4 linked regions of the Homo sapiens genome follow. The protein of the gene in region 4 purifies or fractionates together with the protein of the main gene of each other region. This does not show direct contact. Each region holds a gene or a part of one and is shown on either strand. Other genes may lie near its edges.

Region 1 (7,027 bases), on a different chromosome or scaffold from region 4:
TAGAAATTATAGCTAGAATGAAGCTTCTCAAATTACTAATTTACAAATTACAAATTACTAAATTACTTTAGAAAGAAGTAAGGTATAAATAAATCAAATTTAAAAAACTATTAGAACCCATAGAGTCATAATAAATTAGCAAAGAAAAGGACGCCTAGCCCTGATGGGATTTAATTTGGAGAATTTTTTCAGAAGTTCAGAGAACAATTGCCTAGTTACTAATTAGTTCTACCTTCAAAATGTAGAAAGGTATGTTATTAAGTTTCTGATTCATTTTACAAGCATAAATGATTTTGTTTTGACAATTTGATAAAAACAATAACTTTAAAAGAATTTATGGACTGGGGTCATTAATTGACAATACGATATTATATTACAGTAATTATTTACTGTGAGCAAGTTAATTATCCTCAAATGCATGAGCAGCATCATAAAAGAAAAGCTATTAAAACAGAAGAGGAAATTTAGGACTCATCTTCAGTTCCTCTTTCCTTCACTTCTGTGTCCTATTCATGAAAAAATCTTGACTGCTTTAACAAGTACATTAAGAATCTGTGGGCTTCTCAACTTCGCCACTGCTCCTTTCCTAGTAAAAGTCACCATCATCTCCTCCCAAGTTACCGCAGTCATTTCCTGTTGTCACTTTTCACCTCACGATGTCACGTTTCACCTCAACTCCTAACAACCTATTTTCAATATGTAGCCAGAGTGATCATTGTAATGTCCTTTCCTTGGTTAAAACCCTCTAGTGGCTTCTCATCTAACTTAGAATAAAAATCCAGACTCTTCCTATGTCTTCCAGGCACGTAATTTGGCCACTGCCTAGCTCTCCAACTTCACCACATGCCCCTTTCCTTAGGCTTTCCTTGGTTTAGGAAACATACAAGACCAGGGTATGTCCCCCATTAAGCTAGTGTCCTCCTTACAGCTCTTCTACTTGCTGATTTCTCTGTCTGAAACATTCTTCCCTCAGTTCTTTAGGCAAATGTCACTGTCCTGGGGAGGCTTTCTTTGATCCCATAATCTTAAATCGCTTCCCTTCCATGTACTCATTGTCCGTCCAACACACCTCACTCTTTAGTTTCTTCATGTACTTAACTAAAATTACCTTATTTGTTTATTGGCTTTTACCCTAGTGTGTAAGGCCTTTGTACACTGCTGTATCCATAGTACCTATGAGAAGTTGAGATGATTAGTGAATATTAGTTAAATGATTGCATGATGTGTAATAATAGGCAGGATAAGCAATATAATAGTGGGTGAAAAATAGAAAAATTGGCAGTAGAATTGAACAGTCCTTCCACTCCCTTATAGAAATTTAGCATGTAGGACATTAATAGTTGGTAACGGGAGAAAGATGGTCGCAGGAAATAGTAATATAAAGATAACAGTGGTCTTAGGAGTCTTCGGTTTTAATTCTGACTCAGCCATGTAACTTGGAGAAAGTTACCTAATCCAACCTTTAGTTTTCTTCATATGTGAAATCAGGATAGCAATATCTCCTAGATGTTGGATGTACATACTTGTGCATTTCTGTAGGTAAGGTCCTGCTGTCTTCTTTGCCTTGTCCCCCTCTCTTTGGCATAGACATTTTAATGATAAGTATTTTATGTCAGGCCCAAGATTTCAAAAGTGGTTCAAATTCCAATGTCAATTTAGATGTGTAAAATACCTCACGCAGTGAAAGGCACATAGAAAGTGAACAGTAGATGTTAGTTTCTTTCACTCATAGTTGTAGTCTTTAGGCTGGCTAATTCTATATTTAACTTCAAATCTTCCTCAGGATTCTCAGAACCATATATTCTTGCTATTAAAATACATTCCTGCTTTTTCTTAAACCATAAACTCCTAAGAGTATTTTCTCTATGACATTTATCATAATGATTTATTCATAGCTGGTGTTCTATAAATGTTTGTTTAAAATTTAGCATGCGTTTGTTAAGTGCCTGTTATGTGCAGTGCGTGGAGTTAAACACAGAAAACAAAGTAAAGGAAGTGGAAAGACATATTCTAGCTATATGGTAGGAAAATTTTGCTCACTTTTGAAGAGATGAAGATATATTTAATAAGATAGATTAGAATTTATAAAAATAAAAAGACATTGGCGCCCTGAAATATATAAAATGAATATGGAAAGGAAAGGAAAAAAGAAAAAATAAGTTACCAAGACATCCAATAGAATCTTACTATGCAAAGTAGATGAAGATTTGATAGAAATATGTATGGTCATAACAGGATTCTGCTTGATAGATATTTGGGGAGGAGAAACAGTTCACACATGAAGAAGTAGTGATAGAAAACCTGTATGAAGAACATATAGTGTTTCTAGCAATTAAAGAAACCTAGCTCAGACATCTCCAAAGTACATTTATTCAGTAAAAAATTTACTCAAGAAATATCATGTGATACAAAAAAGCATGAGCACAAAAAGCATGTAGAGCAAAAGCGGTAGAAACAAAACAGGTTCTAAACCCAGCTTTTTTACTTCCAGGCCAGCTTTTTTTTTTTTTTTTTTTTTTTTTTTTAGTAGTAGACTCTTTTATTTTTAGACTCTAAAGCTTCAACTTTTAATTGAGTAGAAGGTATAGAGATTTCCCTTATACATCTGTCCCCGCATACTCACAGCCTCCCATACCATCAAAATCCCATGCCAGAGTGATAATATTAGTTACAATTGATGAACCTATGTTGACCCATCATTATCACCCAAAGTCCATTAGGGTTTACTCTTGGTGCTGTACATTCAGTGCATTTTGACAAATGTATAATGACATGTATCCACCATTATAGCATCATGCAGAGTAGTTTCACTGCCATAAAAATACACTCTGTGCCTACTCATTCCTCCCTCCCCCTAGCCCCTGGCAACCACTGATCTTTTTACTGTCTCCATAGTTGTGCCTTTTCCAGAATATCATATAGTTGGAATCATGTAGCCTTTTCAGATTGGCTTTTTTCTCTTAGCAATATACGTTTAAGGTTCCTCATATCTTTTCATGGCTTGATAGCTAATTTCTTCTTAGATCTGAATAATATTCTTTTGTCTGGATATCCCACAGTTTATCCATTCACCTATCGAAGGAAATCTTGGTTATTTCCAAGTTTTAGCAAATAAAGCTGTTAAAAACATTTACCAAGCCAGCTTTTTGTTCCTTGCCCGGCATTTAACTTCTCTGAGACTCAGTTTCCTCATCTGTAAAATTGAGCTGATATTTTCTAAGGATTCTGAGGTTTGAAATTATGTAATTATCTATATAAAAGTCATGAAATGTTATGTGAATAACTGTGAATAACTCAAGTATGCCTGTATTACTGGTGACATTAAAGGTTGATAAAGCCTTTCTGGTAGAAAGCAGTTTGGTCCTATATAACAAAAAGTATAATCTACCTGTGCTTACTCTTTGATCAGATCATTCTATTTTGGGTGTTAGACTTCACATATCTCCAAATGGAGGTGAGAAAAGATTTTTTTAAAGAAAAGTTTTTATAGCAGGGTAATTTATAAAAGCCAAATAGACACAACTGTGGGAACAATTCTAATGCCCAGTAACGGAGAAATACAAAGTAAATTACATGAGGGCAGGGACCATGACTATTCTGACCAATGTGTACCTAGCACCTTACTCACTGTGGTGTTCTAAATATTTGTTGTATTAAAAAGACTGAATAAGCGAATTTAAGGATAAGAGAAGAGTTTTTACTGAATACACAAAGATCTTAGGGGATGGCATCCTATTCCTCTCTTTGTTGCTTTGCATCTCTCATTGCCACACTCAGCTGTGCCAGTTGTTACCTGCTGGACTCCATACTCTCCCCCTTTACTGATGCCAGTGCAGTGCTTAAACATAGGCACTACACTGATATAGCAGCCATGACAGGTAAACTTCTCACTTGGGAAAGAAAATTAACATCATTGTAAAGGAACTAATGCAAGAGTGACCGTACGTCCCAATTTTGCAGAGACAGTCATGGCTCATGCCTGATGTCTCAGTGCAAATCTTGCTAGCATCTCATTTCATTCTCAAAGGTATCCCAGTTTGGACAGTAGGTCACCGTTTAGCTGAGGATCTGACTTTCTGTTTACTTAAGTGCTGTAAGTGCTATAGTTGGGAAACATTTTCTTGTTGTGTCAATTCAGTTTACTTAAACATTTACTTAACACTCACTAGATATAAGGAAATCTTAAATCTGCTGTGAAATACAAAGAAAAATAAGACAAGACCACTGCCACTGAAGAATTTCACGTTAAGTAATGTTTTTTCAACTCTCCAGCTTACCTTGGTAACTCAGAGCCTAATCAGAGCTAGAAGTGCTCCTAGACCCAAGCTTCTGCCCTGACCCCATTCACTTAGAGAACGTCTATCTGGCTCGCATCTGACTACAAGTCCCTCTCTCCTGTGGGACTCAATGAAATGTTAGCATACAAGAACCTGTGCCCCTACCATACCCCACTCAGGGTATCTGGAATAATGGAATTCCTTGCCCAGATATGTTTGAGCCTGCTTTCAGGGCCCATCTGGACCTCTTCCTTGAACACATTCACACAAGGCCCTTTACAGTGCCAGATAAGCTAGGGCTGGGAGAGGGGGCAGATGGCAGGCTAGTGGCAAGAGCTACACAGTAAGCTCCCTGCAATCTTACATGTTCTGAAATTCAAGAATTCTAGTTTTGTACCTGGACTTCCAGGTAATTTCGAATGTGTATTCTTCAAAGTAGGAGAATAGAACAGATTTTAAGTAGTAGTGTATTAGCTTGACTTACTGCTTTTAGGTGTTTAGAGACATGGTATCTGGGCCTCCATTTTCATTCTTTCCATGGACCCCACAAATATTAGAGGCAGGCTGTTTAGAGTAAAACTTAAAATCCTTAGCATGACCTGTGAGGTCCTACATAATCTGCTCCTGCCCTCCACCCTGCTCCACTCGGCTGTACCTGCTTCTTCACTGTTCCAAAACACCCCAGGCACGCTCCCATCTCCCTTGTACTCGCAGCTCCCTCTTGGAATGATTTTTCCCTAGGTTGCCACATGGTCTCTTTCCTCATGTCCTTCAGGTCTGTCCCCCTCTTGACCCCCAAAGTCATTATCCTATCAGTGAGGCCTTGCCTGGATAGTCTTTCTAAGATTTTACCAGTCCCTCAAACACTGTCTCCTTTACTGCCTTATTTACTTCCCTTAAGACACATCAGTATCAGAAAGCCAGAAGTCGTAAAAAACTGAATTAGCTTTTTCCCCTAAATGTCTTTCTTTTAAAACTCCTAAATATTAAGACCATTTATCCTTAAAAATTATTTTGGCTCTTATATCTTAAAATTATCCATATACCCACTTTGAAGAGTTAAATAGTTCTAAGGCTAGTTACTTAAATCAGCAGCCAGTCCCTCAACCCTGCCATCAGTTTCAGGGGTAACTATTTCCAATTCTATTGGACGATTCTTTTAGTATTTCCCATTGTGTCTAAATAACATGCTTATGTTGCTACATTCTAACTTCAATTTTGGGCCTTAATTATTTTCCACCTTACAGGATGAGACGTAAGCCCTCTCTTTCCAGTGTCACACCCTGTGCATGTGCACACACATGCAGCTCTCCCCTTCTCAGTATGATGAAATTGTACTTTTTGGTTTCATCAAGATTTGGTATTTTAAACTGTAAGCACTAGTCATAGCTGAGCCCCATAGTACACTGTGATTACTTTTCCTTCCTTTGCAATGTTTTATTTCTCCTGGAGTTAAAAATTGTCATGATTTTGATTTGTTTACTTTTCTAAGTATATTAGTCCATTCTCATGCTGCTAATGAAACATACCTGAGACTAGGTAATTTATGAAGGAAAGAGGTTTAATTGACTTACAGTTCCATATGGCTGAGGATGGCCTCACAATCATGGTGGAAGGCGAATGAGGAGAAAAGTCATGTCTTACATGGCGGCAGTCAAGAGAGCATATGCAGGGGGAACTGCCCTTTATAAAACCATCAGATCTCGTGAGACTTAATCACTATCATGAGAACAGCACGGGAAACACCCACCTCCATGATTCAGTTACCTCCCATGACATGTGGGAATTATGGGAACTGCAATTCAAGATGAGATTTGGGTGGAGACATATGCAAACCATATCACTAGGTTATTATCATCAATTTTACCCAAGACTGTATCAGTTATGTATATCTTTTTTCAGTATATTCAGTCATCTATGTTCTGCAGTTTTTCTTGAAAAAAATCTCTCATAGAGCCTTTTTAAATCTGAATGATTCTCCGGTCTGCTAGAGTTTAACTGAAACCATAGATGTATCTCTAAGATTTGTTTACCCTCAAAACAGCATTAGGGCAGTTGTTACAGATTATTAATACTATTGTTGTTGTTTTTAAAATAATACTATTTGACCAAATCATGAAAACAACTGTTCACTGTAGATTTTTCAGTGGTTCTCTTTTATGTGTTATAATCAAGATACCTTTTATTAAAAAAATAACAATACATTCTTTGTTTTACATGGAGCATATTAGGGATTACTGAAACAATCTGAATACATTGATGTATATATATAGTATTTTTTTATTTTATTATTTCTTTATAGGCTCTCAAAATTAGAGAGATGTGTAATTGTCCACCACTGTCTAATCCAGACCCTCGATTACTATTCAAACTCAGCACGAAGCATTTTCTTGAAGAATCAGAGAAAGAAGACCTAAATATCACGAAGAAACAGAAAATGGATACTCTTCCTATTCAAAAACAGGAGCAAATACCATTAACATACATAGTTGAGAAAAGAACGGGCAGTTGAATTAAAATTTATGAGACACAAGATATATGAAGAATGTTGCAGTCCTTATCATTTTATGTTACTTTTTAAAAAATGATGTTTGAAGTGAAAAAAAAAAGGATATTCAGGGTCAAATCATGTACATTACAGATATTATCTAAATTCTTCTAGAATTTATTTTTCATGAAATATTGATGTATTTTAATCTATGTTAAAATATCTTCAATGAGGAAAATGTCACAGAATAAATTTATATTAC
Region 2 (6,024 bases), on a different chromosome or scaffold from region 4:
GGCGCCCCCTGGGCTCCCGGAGCTCTGAGCCACTTCAGGAGTTCGGGCATGTGGGGTTTTGTCTCCGGTTTTAGTCTGGCCATGTTTGTTGGTTCCAATTCCTATGCTCTGTTACCTGAACCTGTTTGATTCTTTTGATTTTCTTCTTTCTGAAAAAGACTTTTCACGGTTTCCTATTCTGCCTTTCTTCCGTATGCCTCTCAACGGGACGAGCAGCTGAAATTAAAAAGATAGTAGCAGGTACGAACCCAAAGGAGTGTGCTGAAGTCAAGAGCCTGTCTGGCGGGCCACAGACCTGAGCGCAGCCCCTCGGTGGCACACCTGCCCCAGGGACAGCCCTGCATGGGGACACGTGTCAGGCCCCAGACCTGCGCACGCACCCAGGCTCAGCCACAGCCCCTCAGGCAGGGTCCCGATGCCCACTCTGCTCCCTTGTGTTACAAATGCCGTGGTCCTTCTCAGCCCTGCTGTGGCCTTGCCTGTCATCAGAGGGCAGCTGGTCTCTGCAAGCGTCTGAGTGCAGGCTGCTTAGGGCACCAGCCAAGGGGGGACGCTGCCTGCACTGCTGCCTCATGGGCCACCTTGACAGATCTGCATGGGTCTCAACAGGTGGGTGGCTTCGTGCCTTCTGCAGCCCAGTCCCCGTGGTCTTGGTGGGCTCTGGCTGTAGGAACAGCCTGTCTCCTCCACGGTGCTTCACATGTGTCCCACGTGGCTTCTGGCTGGACGTGGCATGGCTCCTTCCCCCCTCCCCCTCTTTTTTCCTCCTCTTCCTCTTCCTTCCTCCCTCCTCTTCCCTCCTCCCTCCTTCTCCCTCCTCTTCTCTCCTCCCTCCTCTTCCCTCCTCCCTCCTCTTCCCTCCCTCCTTCTCCCTCCCTCCTTCTCCCTCCTCTTCCCTCCCTCCTTCATCCTCCTCTTCCCTCCCTCCTGCTCCTCTTCCCTCCCTCCTCCTCCTCTTCCCTCCTTCCTCCTCTTCCCTCCTTCCTCCTCTTCCCTCCTTCCTCCTCTTCCCTCCTTCCTCCTCTTCCCTCCTTCCTCCTCCTCCCTCCTCCTCTTCCCCCACCTTCCTTCTCCCTCCTCCTCTTTCTCCCTCCCTCCTCCCCCTCCCCCTCCTCCCTTCTGTCTCCTCTTTCCTCCTCTTCCCAGCACCAGGCCCAGGGCTAGTCCTTTGAGGAGCAAGTGAGGCCATGGTGCCTGCTCTTTCGGAACCCTGCCCTGGAGTATGGGGAGGTGTCACCAGCACATGGGATCTCGTCCTTGTACCATTGACATTCCGTGGTTGAGCCCCGCAGCACCCAGGGCGAGCACGTGGCCCACGGCCGAGGTGGCTGGTCTGCCACCTGCACTTCCTCCTGTGAAAGGAGGTGTGCGGGAGACCTGCTCTGCCCGTCATGGCCTTTCCCTGCAGGCAGGCGTCTGGCCCGGGGTGCTAGCAGGGAGCAGGGGCTGCTGCTTGAGGGCCGGCCCCATGGCCCTGATCTCCTTGGAGCCAGCCCTGTCCCCCACATCCAGGGGTCTGGGCGAGGCCCAGGGCTGCGTTCCTGGGAGAATGCTGACCCTGCACTTCTCTGGCTGGTCATGGTGTCACCACTGGGGAGGCTGGGCCGGCACGTCAGTCTATGCCTGGCATGCAGGGCCGTCCCTGAGATATTTGCTCTCACCACTCACAAAACATCCTTCTCGCTCCTGGATTGAACTTTTATGCCTCACAGCCCTAACCCATCATTTTTCAAAGCTTCCTATAATAATTTGAAAACATCTTGTAAAAATGACATAAGTCACAGCCGCTTGCGGCAAATAACTGGCCAGTGTTGAAGCGAGTCAGACCGGGTGCTCCTGCACCAAGTGTGTGCCAGCCGTAACCCGGGCAGGCCTGTCCTCTGGCCCTTGCTGCAGGCACCAGCTCTTAACACGGGGTGCACTGGGGCTCCCCATCACGCAGGACCTGCCCAGAATTTCCACAGTGGATGGTGTTCAGGAGCGGTGGTTAGGATGGCTGGCGGGGGCCTCACTGACGCTCCAGCTCCCATGCTCCCCTTAGAAGACAGCTTTTGGCCGGGTGCGGTGGCTCATGCCTGTAATCCCAGCACTTTGCGAGGCTGAGGTGTGCGAATCACGAGGTCAGGAGATCAAGACCATCCTGGCTAACACGGTGAAACCCCATCTCTACTAAAAATACAAAACATTAGCCGGGCGCGGTGGCGGGCGTCTGTAGTCCCAGCTACTCGGGAGGCTGAGGCAGAAGAATGGCGTGAACCCGGGAGGCGGAGCTTGCAGTGAGCTGAGATCGCGCCACTGCACTCCAGCCTGGGTGACAGAGTGAGACTCCCGTCTCAAAAAAAAAAAAAAAAAAAAAAAAGACAGCTTTTGTTTGTTTTTAAAATTCTCATCTCGGAGGAAACTTTCTAGAAGTACCAATATTCTTTTCAAAACATAGCTTACAGTTTTTCTTTTCTTTTTTTCTTTTTTGAGACAGGGTCTTGCTCTGTTGCCCAGGCTGGAGTGCAGTGGTGTGATCACGGCTCACTGCAGCCTCGACCTCCTGGGCTCAAATGATCCTCTGGCCTCTGCCCCCCGAGTAGCTGGGAGTACAGACGCCTCTCACCATACCCTGATCATTTTTATTTTTTTGTTTTTTTTGTTTTTGTGGAGATGGGGGTCTTGCTATGTTTCCCAGGCTGGTCTCTAACTCCTGGGCTCAAGCGATCTGCCTGCCTCCGCCTCCCAAATTGCTGGGATTACAGGCGTGAGCCGCCGTGCCCAGGCTTATTTTCTTACGTGCTTGTCCTAGAACAACTGAATGTGTAAAGTGGAAAAAACAAAAACAAAACCCCACCCAGCCCAGATAACCATCTCTGACATTCTGGCACATTCCTTTTGACTGTTGCTCTGGACACTCACTTCCATGGGCAACGAGCAGGCTTGCTGGGGTCCTGCCGGGTGCGCCTGGGGCACAGCCAGTGGGAGAACTGATGCGGCACAGTGGCTGGCTGTGCGGGAGAGGCCATCCCGGGTGGGCTTCCAGGGGCAGTCAGGGCGCAGCCTCTCCCGGGCCCTCAGGCCTGCGTGCATCACTGAGCTGTCCGGGCTTCACGGTCACAGTCATGATGGGTGTCACCAGTGGCCAGTGTTCGGGCACACTCCCTGCAGGTGACCTGTGCGTTGCCTTGCTGTGGGCCGCGCCGTCCCTGGCCCAGCACGGTGCATGAGCAGCCCGGGCACTCTGACTGTGTGCTTTCCAAACCCAGAAGCTGGCAGGGCGGAGATGCTGGACCACGCCGTCCTGCTTCAGGTGATCAAAGAACAGCAGGTGCAGCAAAAGCGCTTGCTGGACCAGCAGGAGAAGCTGCTGGCGGTGATCGAGGAGCAGCACAAGGAGATCCACCAGCAGAGGCAGGAGGACGAGGAGGATAAACCCAGGCAGGGTAGGCCGGGCTGGCGGATGGAGTGGGGTGGGGCCAGGCAGGGGGTCTCCTGCTGTCCTCATGCGGCTGGGTCTGAGGCTCGGTGGCCTCTAGACCTGAGCGTGAGTCTGGTTTTGGTTCCCAATGCTGTTGTTGCTGGTTCTTCTGAGCCCCTCCACTGGCAGCCTGTGTACAGTGCTGTGGCTAAATTGATGACCGACTTCATTTGCAGTGGAGGTGCATCAAGAGCCCGGGGCAGCGGTGCCCAGAGGCCAGGAGGCCCCTGAAGGCAAGGCCAGGGAGACGGTGGAGAATCTGCCTCCCCTGCCTTTGGACCCTGTCCTCAGAGCTCCTGGGGGCCGCCCTGCTCCATCCCAGGACCTTAACCAGCGCTCCCTGGAGCACTCTGAGGGGCCTGTGGGCAGAGACCCTGCTGGCCCTCCTGACGGCGGCCCTGACACAGAGCCTCGGGCAGCCCAGGCCAAGCTGAGAGATGGCCAGAAGGATGCCGCCCCCAGGGCAGCTGGCACTGTGAAGGAGCTCCCCAAGGGCCCGGAGCAGGTGCCCGTGCCAGACCCCGCCAGGGAAGCCGGGGGCCCAGAGGAGCGCCTCGCAGAGGAATTCCCTGGGCAAAGTCAGGACGTTACTGGCGGTTCCCAAGACAGGAAAAAACCTGGGAAGGAGGTGGCAGCCACTGGCACCAGCATTCTGAAGGAAGCCAACTGGCTCGTGGCAGGGCCAGGAGCAGAGACGGGGGACCCTCGCATGAAGCCCAAGCAAGTGAGCCGAGACCTGGGCCTTGCAGCGGACCTGCCCGGTGGGGCGGAAGGAGCAGCTGCACAGCCCCAGGCTGTGTTACGCCAGCCGGAACTGCGGGTCATCTCTGATGGCGAGCAGGGTGGACAGCAGGGCCACCGGCTGGACCATGGCGGTCACCTGGAGATGAGAAAGGCCCGCGGGGGGGACCATGTGCCTGTGTCCCACGAGCAGCCGAGAGGCGGGGAGGACGCTGCTGTCCAGGAGCCCAGGCAGAGGCCAGAGCCAGAGCTGGGGCTCAAACGAGCTGTCCCGGGGGGCCAGAGGCCGGACAATGCCAAGCCCAACCGGGACCTGAAACTGCAGGCTGGCTCCGACCTCCGGAGGCGACGGCGGGACCTTGGCCCTCATGCAGAGGGTCAGCTGGCCCCGAGGGATGGGGTCATCATTGGCCTTAACCCCCTGCCTGATGTCCAGGTGAACGACCTCCGTGGCGCCCTGGATGCCCAGCTCCGCCAGGCTGCGGGGGGAGCTCTGCAGGTGGTCCACAGCCGGCAGCTTAGACAGGCGCCTGGGCCTCCAGAGGAGTCCTAGCACCTGCTGGCCATGAGGGCCACGCCAGCCACTGCCCTCCTCGGCCAGCAGCAGGTCTGTCTCAGCCGCATCCCAGCCAAACTCTGGAGGTCACACTCGCCTCTCCCCAGGGTTTCATGTCTGAGGCCCTCACCAAGTGTGAGTGACAGTATAAAAGATTCACTGTGGCATCGTTTCCAGAATGTTCTTGCTGTCGTTCTGTTGCAGCTCTTAGTCTGAGGTCCTCTGACCTCTAGACTCTGAGCTCACTCCAGCCTGTGAGGAGAAACGGCCTCCGCTGCGAGCTGGCTGGTGCACTCCCAGGCTCAGGCTGGGGAGCTGCTGCGTCTGTGGTCAGGCCTCCTGCTCCTGCCAGGGAGCACGCGTGGTCTTCGGGTTGAGCTCGGCCGTGCGTGGAGGTGCGCATGGCTGCTCATGGTCCCAACACAGGCTACTGTGAGAGCCAGCATCCAACCCCACGCTTGCAGTGACTCAGAATGATAATTATTATGACTGTTTATCGATGCTTCCCACAGTGTGGTAGAAAGTCTTGAATAAACACTTTTGCCTTCACCCAGCCTCGGTGGATGCTGTTTGGTGTCCAGGAAGCACAGGGAGCAGGGGCCAGACAAGCCGGGTGTCCAGGGGCACTGGCCGGTGCCGCCCTTTGCACTCCTCATGGTTGGCCCAGCCCTCCATTGTCTGTGTTTTTCAAAATCCAATTGTGGCTTTTTTTAAAAAGTAAAAAACACCACTGATAACCTGATTAGTGAAGTTGGTCCTGGGGGAGTGACTGAAAGGAAAGCCTGAGGCCGGCTCAGGATTCCAGATGTGTAAAGCAGAGGCCAGAGGTCATGAGGGAACGGCGCCATGACCTGAGCGTCGCAGTGACTGGACACTAGACGCAGCACAGCCCCAGAGAGACCCTGTGAGCAGGCAGAGCCGCCTGGTGCCAGGAGGTGGTCCAGCCCCCAGGGCCAGGCTGACGGGCGTGCTGCCTCGTGACCAGGACACGCTCCACAGCCCTCTCACCTGGCGGGAGAGAGGAGGTGCTGCTGTGTCCACAGCATCCGAGTCTGCTTTGGCTCGTCCTCTGGGGAGCTTGCGCCCCAACCCTGCCACGAAACCCTGCCACGAAGGGCAGAGGACCAGGGCCTGGGTCTGGGGGAGGCCCGTGTTGGCGAAGGGTCCCTGCATGGAGGGCCGGCCTCAGCCTCTGGTGGTGTCTTCCTGCACCTTTTGATATCCTTTTGGCTCTTTATTATAGTTTCTTCCCTTGAAGGATGTCACT
Region 3 (7,380 bases), on a different chromosome or scaffold from region 4:
CCAGCCTGGGCAACAAGTGAGACTCTGTCTCTAAAAAAAGAAGAAGAAAAAGAGCAGGAGAGTGCACACATCTCAGTGACAACCAGACAAGATGATGAAAAATGATACTGAAAAGCAGATGTGTCAATGAAAAAAGCCAAACTCTGTAAAATATTTGAGAAGATTTATTCTGAGCCAAATATGAGTGGCCATGGCCCAAGGCATAGTCTCAAGAAGTCCTGAGAACAAGCTCCCAATATGTTTGGATTACATCTTGGTTTTATATGTTTTAGGGAAACATAAGACATCAATCAATATACGTGGGTACACACTGGATTGGTCTAGAAAGGTGCAACAAAGCAGGGGTGATGGCTTTCAGGTCATGGGTGGATTCAAAGATTTTCTGATTGCAGTCGTTTGAAAGAGTTATTGTCCTGTAATCAATAGAAAGGAGTATCTTGGATAAGATAAGGAGTTGTATAGTGAGAATACATAGATACAGGGAGGGTAACAACACACACTGGGGCCTGTTGGGGATGGGATGGGAGGAGGGAGAGCATTGAGAAAAATAGCTAAGGTATGCTGGGCTTAATACCTAGCTGATGGGTTGGTAGGTGCAGCAAACTACCATGGCACACATTTACCTACCTATGTAATAAGCCTGCACATCCTGCACGTGTACCCCGGAACTTAAATAAAAATTAAAATTAATAAGAAATAAAAAAGATAAGGGGTTGTAGAGACCAAGAATCTCATTATGTAGATGAAGTCTCATAGATGGTCATCCTTAGAGACAATAGATGAAAAATGTTTCTTATTTGGACCTTTAGAAGGTGCTAGACTCTCATTTAATATCTTCAGGGTTGGGAGGGCCTGGAAGGGGGAAAAGCCATAGTTATGTTAACACAGATTATTTACAGATGCAAATTTCCCCCACAAAAGACAGGCTTTGCAGGGCCATTTCAAAATATAGCAAAGCAACATATTTGGGGGCTAGGCACAGTGGCTCATGCCTGTTATCCCAGCACTTCGGGAGGCCAAGATGGGTGGATTACCTGAGCTCAGGAGTTCGAGATCAGCCTGGCCAACGTGGTGAAACCTCAACTCTACTAAAAATAAAAAATTAGCTGGGTGTGGTGGCAGGCACGAATAATCCCAGCTACTTGGGAGGCTGAGGCAGGAGAATTGTTTGAACTCGGGAGGGAGAGGTTGCAGTGAGCCAAGATCGCACCATTGCACTCCAGCCTGGGTGAAATTCCATCTCAAAAAAAAAGCAAAACTCTGTCTCAAAAAAAAAAGAGGCCGGGCATGGTGGCTCACGCCTGTAATCCCAGCACTTTGGGAGGCTGAGGCAGGCAGATCACAAGGTCAAGAGATAGAGACCATCCTGGCCAACATGGTGAAAATACAAAATTAGCGGGGCGTGGTGGTGGATGCCTGTAATCCCAGCTACTCGGGAGGCTGAGGCAGGAGAATCGCTTGAACCCAAGAGGCGGAGGTTGCGGTGAGTCAAGATCGTGCCATTGCACTCCAGCCTAGGCAACAAGAGCGAAATTCCGTCTCAAAAAAAAAAAAGGAAATATATTTGGGGTTAAAATATTTGTATTTCCTTCTTTATCTGTCATGTGATGTTATGCCAGAGTTAGGTTGGAAAGTAAGTCACGTTATATGGGGTTAAACAAAACCCATCTTGTGGCCGGGTGCAGTGGCTCATGCCTGTAATCCTAACACTTTGGGAGGCCAAGGTAGGAGGATTACCTGAGGTCAGGAGTTCGAGGCCAGCCTGACCAACATGGCAAAACCCCGTCTCTACTAAAAATACAAAATTTAACCGGGCATGGTGGCGCATGCCTATAATCCCAGCTACTCGGGAGGCTGAGGTGGGAGAATTCCTTGAACCCAGGAGGCAGAGGTTGCAGTGAGCTGAGATCACGCCACTGCACTCCAGCCTGGGTGATAGAGTGAGACTTTGTCTCAAACAAACAAACCAACCAACCAACCTATCTTGTTACTGGAAAGTGGTCTCAATCCAGACCCCAGGAGAGGGTTCTTGGACCTCACGCAAGAAAGAATTCAGAATGAGTCCATAAAGCAAGTTTATTAGGAAGTAAAAGGGATAAAAGAATGGCTACTCCATAGGCAGAGCAACAGCTTAGGCTGCTCGACTTATAGTTATTCATATTTATAGTTATTTCTTGATTATATGCTAAACAAGGGGTGGATTATTCATGAGTTTTCCAGGAAAGGAGTGGGCAATTCCTGGAACTGAGGGTTCCTCCTCTTTTTAGACCATGTAGGGTAACTTCCAGGACGTTGCCATACCATTTGTAAATTGTAATGGTGCTGGTAAGAGTTTCCTTTAGCATGCTAATGTATTATAATTAGCATCTAATGAGTAGTAAGGACGACCAGAGGTCACCTTCACCACCATTTTGGTTTTGGTGGGTTTTGGCTGGCTTCTTTACTGCAATCTGTTTTATCAGCAAGGTCTTTGTGACCTGTATCTTGTGTTGACCTCCTATCTCATCCTGTGACTTAGAATACCTAACTTCCTGGAAATGCAGCCCAGTAGATCTGAGCCTTATTTTACCCAGCTCCTATTCAAGATGGAGTTGCTCTGGTTTGAACACCTCTGACAATCTGATGAGATTTTATGGTTTGTAGGCTGTGACTCCTCACATCCCTTAGATAAGAATTTGGGGCCAGGTGCAGTGGCTCACGCTTGTAATCCCAGCACTTTGGGAAGGTGAGGCAGGCGGATCACAAGGGCAGGAGTTCGAGACCAGCCTGACCAACATGGAGAAACTTCATCTCTACTAAAAATACAAAATTAGCTGGCATGGTGGCAAATTCCTGTAATTCCAGCTACTTGGGAGGCTGAGGCAGGAGAATCGCTGGACCCCAGGAGGAGGAGGTTGCGGTGGGCGGAGATGCCGAGATCATGCCATTGCACCCCAGCCTGGGCAACAAGAGCGAAACTCCGTCTTACCAAAAAAAAAAAAAAAAAAAAAAAAAATTGAGCAAGAGAGAAGACAGGTCAGAGTTTAGTCCTCAACCTCTCCTCAAACTTTCCACTTAGCACTACATGAACCATCTCATCTGGCTGGGAACTTACACAAAACCTGAAGAAAAGAAGATAGGGCCTATTGTCTGATACTAAGTTTTTGCCACACAATCAGAATAGATCTTGAAATAGAAAAGGTTGAATGACTGAAAAGTAAAGAAGGCTACATTTCTTACACACTCGAGTTTGTGGATTGAGATGCCTATTTGCTACATTTGTTACTCAATAAACGTTTGCTGAATGAATAAAATAATTGAATAAATAAATGAAAAATAAAAATTTGGAACAGATCCGTGTTTGCCCAGGGTGAATGCTTTTTGATGAGGGAGCCATAGGCAAGGTGGACTATGTTGATAAAAAGAGTTAAACTCTGTAAAATATTTGAAGAGATTTATTCTGAGCCAACTATGAGTGACCATGGTCTGTGACACAGCCCTCAGGAGATCCTGAGAACATGTACCCAAGGTGGTTGGGGTGCAGCTTGGTTTTATACATTTTGGGAGACATGAGACTTCAATCAAATATATTTAAGAAATACATTGATTTGGCCCAGAAAGGTGGGAAAACTCGAAGCGGGAATTGGTGGGGGGAGAAATGGGTCCTTCCAGGTTATAGGTAGATTTAAAATTTTTCTAATTGGCAATTGGTTGAAAGAGTTATCAATAGAAAGGAATGTCTGGGTTGTCATAAGAACTTGTGGAGACCAAAGTTTTGTCATGCAGATGAAGCCTCCAGGTACCAGGCTTCCAAGAAAATAGATTGTAAATGTTTCTTACCAGACCGAAGGTCTGTGTTGACCTTAACCGGAGAGGTATGAGGCTAGTCGGACCCCCACTTCCCGTCATGGACTGAACCAGAATTTTAGAGTGCCCTGGCCTGGGAGAAAGTCCATTCCGATGGTTGGCGACACGGGGGGCTTAGAATTGTATTTTCGGTTTACATCTAAAAGAAGAACAAAGGTCTAGGCTTCCAGAATCATGGGTTCTGGTGACCGTGGACCTGGAGGTGATGGTAAACTCTCTTTTTGTTCCTGGGGTGTTTTCCTTGGGATCCTTTCTATGAGAAATGTAGGCCGGGTTTTATTTTTCGGGTTCCTAGTGGTGAGGTAAGGTGAGGTGCCTCAACAAGAAAAAGGACCAGTTTTGGCTTCAGGTCTATGTGAAAGCGGTTAACACTGGGCCTGGAATGGTAGATACTCAATAATTAAGGTTACTTCTTATTCTCGGTTCTTTTTTCCAAACCTAGCGCGTCTAATCTCTTCTAGGCCCCGCCCCTTCTGAGCCCCCCCTCCTTCGGCCTGTATGATAGGCTCTTCCTCCATTTCCGGCTTCTGGGACTCGGGTGCACCACGGCTTCCGGTGTCATGGCTGCTTGAAGTCCCGGGAGTCGGTGAGGCGGCTGCAGGTCCCTCCCTGCGGAGCCGCTGGTCCGGCTGGCGGAGATGTGACCGCGGGCCCGGCCGGCCTGCCTCAGGCGTCGCGTCAGCTCCCGTGTCCGTGCCCTTAACCCACACCGATGGCGGGATCCGGCTGCGCCTGGGGCGCGGAGCCGCCGCGTTTTCTGGAGGCCTTCGGGCGGCTGTGGCAGGTACAGAGCCGTCTGGGTAGCGGCTCCTCCGCCTCGGTGTATCGGGTTCGCTGCTGCGGCAACCCTGGCTCGCCCCCCGGCGCCCTCAAGCAGTTCTTGCCGCCAGGAACCACCGGGGCTGCGGCCTCTGCCGCCGAGTATGGTTTCCGCAAAGAGAGGGCGGCGCTGGAACAGTTGCAGGGTCACAGAAACATCGGTAATTGCCGCTGTCTCCTTTCTCTTCTTGCCCAGGTCACAGTCCGAGCACACTCTTCCTCTCGCTGTCTGGCGTTCCATCTTCCTCCCCTTCTGCGGGAGAAGCGGGTTTAGCCCTCTTTATCACCCCATCCAGGCCCCTTTCCCCTTTCACTTTATTACTGTCTGCGGTATAGTGGAGTTGGTGGTCTGCTTTGCCAGGTGTCACATAGATGCTCAGTAAATTGTCTTGCTTCGAGTCTCATCGGAGAATGCCGCATTCATTAGCATACAGAAATATCTTTTCTAGTGAGAGGAGGCATGTCTTTGCTAGATTGTCGTGTCTTGTGTGGAAATTTTTGAATCTTTGCATACCAGTAGAAAATGGGAACTACGTCTGGGCCTTGTGACATCAATGCTAGTAACTCGTATAGCTCACCTATTATATCTTTAGTACGGATTTGGAAGAAATGATGCACTATTCCATGGGAGCCTTTATAGAAGTGTGAAATTTAGGAACACTATACCTTTGCTCTCTTGAGACTGTTTCAAGAATCAGATACTCAGAATGTAAGATATGTAATGATCACTGATGATTGATCTGTGAAAAGGTTTCATTTTCATTACACGACAGAAAGCTTATCATTAGTTATAGCTTTGGTTATTAAAGAAAAGTCTTATTTCCTAGCAAGTATGATGCATAGTTAATTTGAAGAGTGAGTTTTTTTATAATATCATTTTGGAGAAGAATTAACACTAGTGCTACATTTTTTTAGTTTACTAAATGGTCTGTTACTATAACCTTGGTATTGAAAAGGGAAAAATTTTGCAAGCCTAGGGACTTGCCTGATCTCTGCAAGATTAAAATTTCATCCGAAAAGTCTTAATCTCTTTGTTAGTATTTAGATTATAGAGAGCTGTTTATTTTTGTTTTAGTTTTTTTTTTTGAGACAAGTTCTTACTCTGTCACCCAGGCTGGAGTACAATGGCGAGATCACAGTTCACTCCAGCCTCCAATTCCTCCTAAAGCCATGCTCCTACCTCAGCCTCCCAGGTAGCTGGGACTACAGGCACGTAGCACCAAGCCTGGCTAATTTTTTGTAGAGAAGAGGTCCCCTTTTGTTACCCAGGCTGGTCTCCAAACTCCTGGGCTCAAGCAGTCCTCCTGCCTCGGTCTCTCAGAATGCTGGGATCACGGGCATGAGCCACCGTGGCAGACCTAGACTGCTGTTTTGGATGAAGAAGCAATGTTTAGTTTGGTTTTTGCGCATTGTGACATTCCTTTTAAAAGAGTTACTTAATATTTGGGTTTTTACTTTTAAAAATTTCTTTTTTTTTAAAGGACCTCATGATGCAACAGTAAGTTTTATTTATTTATATTTAGGTTTTTTACTTTTAATCATTTTTGCTTGGCACTCCAAGTTCGTGTTCATCACCAATGAGTACTTGGTGAAACACAAATTGAATAATTGTACCATATTTAGTATCTGTGAATGGTAATCAGCTGTTGTAGGCTGTCTCATCTTATTTTTATTAAAATAACCCAATTGCCAAAAGATCTTATTCATGGGAAAAATAAATTACAGTGGAAGCTTGCTCATCAAAGTTATCCTTATCTAGACTATCTCAAATTTGTACTGCAGTTACCTACTTTAGTAGTGACTTACTCTGAGTCTGATTTTTAAAGTATTATAATTTCTTTTTCTAGTGACTTTGTATGGAGTGTTTACAATCCACTTTTCTCCAAATGTGCCATCACGCTGTCTGTTGCTTGAACTCCTGGATGTCAGTGTTTCGGAATTGCTCTTATATTCCAGTCACCAGGGTTGTTCCATGTGGATGATACAGCATTGTGCCCGAGATGTTTTGGAGGCCCTTGCTTTTCTTCATCATGAGGGCTATGTCCATGCGGACCTCAAACCACGTAACATATTGTGGAGTGCAGAGAATGAATGTTTTAAACTCATTGACTTTGGACTTAGCTTCAAAGAAGGCAATCAGGTAAGAAATAACCTTTTCTTTTCTCTCGCAGTTTAAAATGTAGTGGTTGAAGCCAAATATTTTTAAATGACAAGGGTAGTTTAGTAGGGGCTTACAAGTCATTTTAACCTAAATTACTGAAATGCCAGGGGATGCAGTAAATCAAAAGAATTTCAGTGCCACCGTGTAAAAAAAGGACATAATGTTTGGGTCAGGTAGGAGGAGCCAGTGAAGCATGAGAGCTCTGGAATTATTAAAAGTACTTAACCTACATAGAATGGTTTTTTAAATTTTATGCGTGTTTGGCTAATTGCTGAGTTACTATTCCTGGTCTCTTCAGTGTTGGGGCTGTATCTCGTGGCAGAATGCATATGATAGTTCTGCCAAATCCTCTTTTCTCCATGGTTTATCATTTCTTTGCAGTGTCCTTATTATCAGCAGTGCCTAATAGGTAAGAGACAATCCAAAGAAGACTTCTTTATGAGCGCTATATGGAAATGTACAGCTTGCCTCTGAGAACTGCCCAGTTAATGAACCAAAGAATTATGGTAATCAAGGACTAAAAATTTTTAGCATTTAGCTTGGCAGTGGGTTTA
Region 4 (7,027 bases):
AAAGTGCTGGGATTACAGATGTGAGCCACTGCGACTGGCCCCATATGCTCTTTCAAATCAGGAAATGAGTGAGAAGGAAAAGGCCAAGGTTGACTCCTTTTGAGCTCCTGCCATCAGGATTTCAGAAGTGTAGGCAAGCTTCCTAAGTCCATGGGTCAGATAAATTATGCTTACGTGTATGGAATGTTAGAACTTTGGGGCGGACCTTAGGAATTACCTAGTCTCTTCCACCTCCCCATTTGCAGCTCAGAATCAAGCAAAGGACTATATTTGAGACACTCTCATAGGTTCCTTTCTAGCCCTAATGTCATTTGATTCACTTCAGGGAAGCTGAAAATTGTGAGGAGGGAAAGAAAAAGAGGGACAAAGGAAGGAAGCTTAGTCAGCACACATAGTCATCCCCCACCCCAAAACAGGCTATGAGCCCATTGTCTTAGACACTTCCCACTTTCCCACCTGAATTGCCTTTTAGCCATGGGACAGGCCTTCTGGTTATCCTGCCTTCCTCTACCCCATTTCCTTCCTCTTCTAACTCAAGTGATTATCGTAGGAGGTGTAGAGGGGACCAGGAGAGGGAATAAAGAGCAAATTCATCAACTTTTGACTCCTTAGAGGCCACTGTTATTGATGTTTCTCATGCATTTGTTCTCATGGCATGTTTTTAAAACAGGAAACTTGGTTGGGCATGGTGGCTCACGCCTGTAATCCCAGCACTTTGGGAGGCCAAGGCAGGTGGATCACCTGAAGTCAGGAGTTTGAGACCAGCCTGGCCAACATGGTGAAACCCCATCTCTACTAAAAATACAAAATTAGCTGGGCATGGTGGCGTGCACCTGTAATCTCAGCTACTGGGGAGGCTGAGACAGTAGAATCGCTTGAACCCGGGAGGTAGAAGTTGCAGTGAGCTGAGATCACGCCATTGCACTCCAGCCTGGGCAAAAAAGAGCAAAACTCCATCTCAAAAAAATAAATAAGTAAATTTTAAAAATAAGAAGCTCTGAGAAGGTATCGTATCTGGTGTTACCAACAGGTAAAGATTAGGGTTTGGAACTAAATGTAAGACATAGGCTTGCACAATCTTAGGGTTAGAGGGAACCTGAGAGGTGTTCTAATTGGAATTTTCCTAATATGGCCCTGTCAAGTGGTTATCTAGTTTTTGCTTAGTTACCACGAGTGACAAGGAGCTTGCTACTTAACAGAGGCAACCTGTTCCATTTGGGACAGGCTGGCAGGAAGGCATTCATGGAAAGTAAGACACTACTGGCCAGATGCAGTGGCTTATGCCTGTAATCCCAGCACTCTGGAAGCCTGAGGCAGGAGGATCATTTAAGCCCAGGGGTTCAAGATCAGCCTGGGCAACATAGCAAGACCTTGTCTCTATAAGAAATATAAATAAATTAGCCAAGAGTGGTGTTGCATGCCTGTAGTCCCATCCCAGCTACCTGGGAGGATCACTTGAGCCCAGGTGGTCGTAGCTGCAGTGAGCCATGATGGCGCCACTGCAATCCAGCCTGGGCAATGGAGTGAGACCCTGTCTCCAAAAAAAAAAAACATAAGGCACCGCTGTCAGGAATCCAGGAGTGCGTTAATCCAGTCATCCCTCCTACCCCAAAACAATGGCAAATAGGAGATAAGGACTACTCTTTCACTAAATTGGCCAGAGCCCTGTACTTTCGTATATGTCTCTCTGATCAGCAGTGTTGGAGCACAGAGCCTAGCCTAAAGGCCTCTGCAGGCTTTTACCTTCCTCTAAGTCCAAATCTGAACTTTGGGCTGTCTCCTTCCTCTAGAGCAGGGATTCCCCAACCCCCAGGCCGTGGACCGGTACAAGTCCATGGCCTGTTAGAAACCAGGCCACACAGCAGGAGGTGAGCTGCGTGTGAGCAAGCAAAGCTTCATCTATATTTATAGCTGCTCCTCATCGCTCACATTGCTGCCTGAGCTCCGCCTCTTGTCTTATCCGTGGTGGCATTAGACGTTCATAGGAGCACAAACCCTATTGTGAACTGCATATGTGAGGGATCTAGGTTGTGTGCTCCTTAGGAGAAGCTGATGCCTGATGATCTGTCACTGTCATCCATCAACCCCAGATAGGGCTGTCTAGTTGCAGGAAAACAAACTCAGGGCTCCCACTGACTCTACATTATGGTGGATTGTATAATTATTTCATTATATATTACAATGTAATAATAATATAAATAAAGTGCACAATAAATGTAATGCACATGAATTATCCCAAAACCATCTCCTACAAGCCCAGTTCATGGAAAAATTGTCTTCCATGAAACTGGTCCCTGGTGCCAAAACGGTTGGGGACCACTGCTCGACAGAGTTGGTCAGATGCACAGGAAAGTAAAGCAATAACTAACATGCTTAGGAGGCCCACATGTGAGGAGAGAAGCGTGATGGCTGGTCATGAGGGCACTGGCCCACCAGCTGCTAGAAGCAGAAGAGGGCTGGGTGTGGTGGCTCACGCCTGTAATCCCAGCACTTTGGGAGGCCAAGGCGGTGGATCAACTGAGGTCAGGAGTTCGAGACCAGCCTGACCAATATGGCGAAACCCTGTCTCTACTAAAAATACAAAAATTAGCCGGGCACGGTGGCATGTGCCTGTAGTCCCAGCTACTCAGGAGGCTGAGACAGGAGAATTGCTTGAACCTGGGAGGCAGAGGTTGCAGTGAGCCAAGATCATGCCATTGCACTCTAGCCTGGGTAACACAGCAAAACTCCCTCTCAAAAAAAAAAAAAAAAAAAAAAGAAGAAGCCGAAAAAAGAAGCAGAAGAGGAGGCCTCCCATGAGGGCACTGTCTTTTCTGCCTTTGAACACACAGAATGTGTTCATCTAGTAATGAATGTACCCTAGTCTGTGCCTTAGAATATGAGCAATTAGATTAGCAATTGTCTAGAGGCCTGTGAGGAGAGGGGAGGAGGAAGTAAGAGAGAACTGGGGAGATAGGCAGAGACCTTTTCTCTAAAATAAGAACTAGAGGCTGGGTGCAGTGACTCACGCCTGTTATCTCAACACTTCAGGAAGCCAAGACTGGCGGATGACTTGAGGTCAGGAGTTTGAGACCAGCCTGGCCAACATGGCGAAACCCTGTCTCCACTAAAAATACAAAAATTAGTCAGGGCTGGTGGCGCATGCCTGTAATTCCAGCTACTTGGGAGGTTGAGGCATGAGAATCCCTTGAACCCAGGAGGCAGAGTTGCAGTGAGCGGAGATCGCACCATGGCACTCCAGCCTGGGTGACAGAGTGAGACTCTGTCACAAAAAAGTAATTAACGGAATAAAATAAGAACCAGAGTTTGCAGCAATAAGCCAAAAGGGACAGAAGCACTGATCAAGCCCAGGAGGAAACAGGACAGGAGAAGGTCAGGGGGAGATGATGGTATAGAAAGGAGACAGGGGTTCTTCTGTCTCTTAGAAAAGATGGATGAAGTAGAAAAACATACTGAGCTGAGGCCACCCTTGAAGTCAACTCTACAACAGTTCTTCAGGTATTTGAAAGCAATAAACACATTTTTTTTGGATTTCCTTATCTCTAGAATAAATATTCTCATCTGGACCCACTCCTGTTGGCTAATATTCATCTTAAGGTAGAGCTCATGTCTTAACATCAAGTTCCAGTTGTGGCATAGAATTGGGCAAGACAAAACATCACTTTTTCTGGCCACAGTGAACTGATGACTACGTCTTTGTTAGATTGACGGTTTGGTGGTTTATTTTATTTTATTTTTTTAATTTTTATTTTTTGAGATAAGGTCTCACTCTTGTCATCCAGGCTGGAGTGCCGCAGTGGCTTAATCATGGCTCACTGCAGCCTCAAACTCCTGGGCTCAAGTGATCCTCCTACCTCAGCCTCCTGAGTAGCTAGGACTACAGGTGCATGCCACACCCAGCTAATCATTTTTAATTTTTGTAGAGACAAGATCTCGCCATGTTGCCCAGGCTGGTCTCAAACTCCTGGGTTCAAACGATCCTCTCACCTTGGCCTCCCAAAGTGCTGGGATTACAGGCATGAGCCACCCACCATGCCTGGCCTGCTCTTGGATATCTCAGCCTTTTCTTTTGGTCCATCCTATCTTAGAACGAGCCTTATGATGCCAAGCTCTTACTCTTCTTTTGAGTTTTAGAATTAGGTTAGACTCTGAGTGACAGGAAAAAAAATAGTAGCTTAATTAGGATAGAAATGTATTTCTCTCTCATGTTCTGGGCTTATATGGCTCGCCATGGTGTCCTTAATCCCACCTAGCTGTTAGAATAGTTAGTGTTGGCAGCCAGGCAGCCTGTGCTTAGCTAAAGTTAGGAATCCTGCTACTAAGGAGGAAGCGGGGAACAGATATTGGGAATTAGGCAACAACCTCCGCCACCTTCTCTATGCCAGAACCTGGCCACCTTTCTCTCCCTTGTGGTGGAAGTCACTGGTCAGCCTTAATGCTGGTCTCCACTGAGCTTCAAGCTTTGGGTATACTGGCTCTGAAACTCAGCACTGGGTGAGGTATCCTGTGTTCCTGCTAGTTGGGGCCTTATGGACAAGATATGGAGGGGAGTAGTCCCTCACGGCCCTAAGAGGCCCCAGGCCATCTCTGTGCAGCCACTGAGTGAGGAGGGTCTGCTTTGGACTTTGCAGAACTTATTGAAAGCGCAATGTACCTCTACCGTGCCACGGGGGATCCCACCCTCCTAGAACTCGGAAGAGATGCTGTGGAATCCATTGAAAAAATCAGCAAGGTGGAGTGCGGATTTGCAACAGTAAGTGTTTGCATGGCCCCAAGAACTGGGAAGAGTCTCCCCTTGCTGCTAAAAAGCCTCTTTAAGGGTAGAGCTTTGGGAGTTCTGACATATCAGCACTAGAAGGGACCTTGGAGATATACATAATGCTCATATTTTACAGATGGGGAGACCAAAGAACAGAGAAGCTAAGTGCCTTGCTAAAGATCTCACAGCTAGTAGAGGTAGAGCTAGAATTAGTTCCTTGGGATCTTGACCCCGGCCCTTGGCATTCCTCCCACAGTGGAGATCTTTGATCTGTTTGAATAGGTGACTTTGAAAAGGTGAGTTTAGCGAAAAGTTTTGTGAGACACTAAAATAGATTTTAAGGGGAATCCAGAGTCCCATAGCCCTATATTCAAACCTGGGACTCCTTAACAAAGCAGTCCTGCTTAGTCTCACAGATATTTCTTGAATGTCTTTCACATGCCAGGCACTCTGCTAGGCCCAAGGGTTACAGCAGTGGCCTTGCTCTCATGGAGCTTACATTTTAATGAGAAAAAAACCATGAATGTGTATCTGGTAGACAGAAGGCCAGTGTGGCTGGAGCGGAGCAAGCAAGGAGAAAAGTGGGAAGAGATAAGGTCCCAGAGGTAGGCAGGGGCTAGATCATGTAGGGTTTTGTGTAAGCCACAGGAAAGAGTTTGGGTTTTTTTTTCTACTTGGAATGTGAACCCTTGGTAGGATTTACAGCAGAGCAGTGACATGATCTGATTTGTATTTTAGAAAGATCGCTTTGGCTGCTTTGTGAAGAATAGATTGAAAGGGTCAAAGGTGAGAGCCATCTCACATCCATGCAGGAACCAAGCAGGCAAGATATAAATATGAAAGTAGAAGAAAATAGTCTGGAAGAAAATCCCCTGAAAAGCCTACAGTGTTGGGGTATGGAATTCAAAACAACAACAAAACACTTATTTTGCAAAAGTTTGTAATGTGATTATATTCTATAAGTAAAATATAGATATGTGTAGGGGAAGAGAGAAGACCTACATGTGGAAGGGAAAAAATAAACCCCTGATATGATTTGGTTTCTAATATGCTGTATTGTGTGAAAAACCAAAATGATAAGCCCACTGGGGCCTTCCTAGGAATGCTGGGCTCATTTCCATGAACATGAAGCCCTTTGGAGGTCTTCCATGGTGAATGATGGGAACAGGGGTCTGACCTTTCTCAAACAGGGCAAGGAAATAATCATCTTGATACATCAAGACCATATTTGAGTCATATTTTTAAATGTAAGATAGAGTCCACTGAGAATGTTTTGTTTAGAAGTATTACTAATTCTGAGAAGCTAAAATAAATGTTTGTAGCAAGTAATCTTAGTCATCCATGCCTGAAAACTCAGTTGAAATTCTCTAAATAAGACTCCTTACTAAAACAATGTCAATAGTTTTCATCAACAGCAGTTGAACCTAGTAAGTGTCGATACTTTGGGTCTGAGTGGAGAAAAAAAGACCCCTTATTAGTTGCTTACAAAAACTTGGTAATTGGCCAAGCGCAGTGGCTCAGGCTTGTAATCCCGGCACTTTGGGAGGCCAAGGCAGGCGGATCACGAGGTCAGGAGTTCAAGACCAGCCTGACCAACATGGTGAAACCCTGTCTCTACTAAAAATACAAAAAAAATTACCTGGGTGTGGTGGCATGTGCCTGTAGTCCCAGCTACTCTGGAGGCTGAGGCAGGAGAATTGCTTGAACCCGGGAGGCAGAGGTTGCAGTGAGCCGAGACCATGCCATTGCACTCCAGCCTGGGCAACAGAGTGAAACTCCATCTCTAAAAAAAAAAAAACTTGGTAATCATCTGAATGCCCTTCCAAGGAGGATTAGCCAAGTAAATGGTGATCCATTTTCACGATGGAATACTCTGCCATCATTAAAAGGGACGATTAGCTCTATGTTTATAGTCACAAAAAGTTGGGATAAAGGGGATAGGAGATTGTCATGTCATAGAGCAAGGTTAGCGGAGACCTTTCTGGTGAGGAAGCATTTGAGCAGAGACCTGAAGGAAGGGAGGGAACAAGCTATGAGAAAAACTGGAGGCGGAGTGCTCCAGGCTGAAAGAACCACAGATGCAAAGAGCCCGAAGCAGGAGGGTGCTGTGCTAGCTCAGGACAGAAAGGCAGCAGCTGGAGCTCTTAGAGTGGTAAGAGGTGAGGGCAGGAAGGGAGCAGGGGCCAGGTCATGACTTGCATTTTTATCCTGCATGAAATGGAGGGCTCACAGAAAGTTGTGAGTAGAGAATTGACAGGAAGACTTATG

What was found.
Region 1: the proteins of EDEM2 (region 4) and OMA1 purify together in Homo sapiens (co-immunoprecipitation; 3 studies listed by BioGRID and IntAct, with this or other methods). This does not show direct contact.
Region 2: the proteins of EDEM2 (region 4) and SLC38A10 purify together in Homo sapiens (co-immunoprecipitation; 3 studies listed by BioGRID and IntAct, with this or other methods). This does not show direct contact.
Region 3: the proteins of EDEM2 (region 4) and UHMK1 purify together in Homo sapiens (co-immunoprecipitation; 3 studies listed by BioGRID and IntAct, with this or other methods). This does not show direct contact.

Annotation. Positions count from the first base shown.
Region 1 is NC_000001.11:58,480,727-58,487,753, reverse strand, and holds part of OMA1 (metalloendopeptidase OMA1, mitochondrial precursor), read left to right. Parts: intron 1-6,579; coding exon 6,580-6,789; 3' UTR 6,790-7,027. UniProt on the Homo sapiens protein: Metalloprotease that is part of the quality control system in the inner membrane of mitochondria. Activated in response to various mitochondrial stress, leading to the proteolytic cleavage of target proteins, such as OPA1, UQCC3 and DELE1.
Region 2 is NC_000017.11:81,244,286-81,250,309, reverse strand, and holds the end of SLC38A10 (solute carrier family 38 member 10), read left to right. Parts: intron 1-216; coding exon of another isoform or gene 217-240; intron 241-3,248; coding exon 3,249-3,425; intron 3,426-3,636; coding exon 3,637-4,754; 3' UTR 4,755-5,499; downstream 5,500-6,024. UniProt on the Homo sapiens protein: Facilitates bidirectional transport of amino acids. May act as a glutamate sensor that regulates glutamate-glutamine cycle and mTOR signaling in the brain. The transport mechanism remains to be elucidated.
Region 3 is NC_000001.11:162,493,443-162,500,822, forward strand, and holds the start of UHMK1 (serine/threonine-protein kinase Kist), read left to right. Parts: upstream 1-4,375; 5' UTR 4,376-4,558; coding exon 4,559-4,826; intron 4,827-6,512; coding exon 6,513-6,805; intron 6,806-7,380. UniProt on the Homo sapiens protein: Upon serum stimulation, phosphorylates CDKN1B/p27Kip1, thus controlling CDKN1B subcellular location and cell cycle progression in G1 phase. May be involved in trafficking and/or processing of RNA.
Region 4 is NC_000020.11:35,116,324-35,123,350, reverse strand, and holds part of EDEM2 (ER degradation-enhancing alpha-mannosidase-like protein 2 isoform 1 precursor), read left to right. Parts: intron 1-4,631; coding exon 4,632-4,753; intron 4,754-6,143; exon of another isoform or gene 6,144-6,215; intron 6,216-7,027. Other genes in the region: MMP24-AS1-EDEM2 (ER degradation-enhancing alpha-mannosidase-like protein 2), read left to right, coding at 4,632-4,753. UniProt on the Homo sapiens protein: Involved in the endoplasmic reticulum-associated degradation (ERAD) pathway that targets misfolded glycoproteins for degradation in an N-glycan-dependent manner.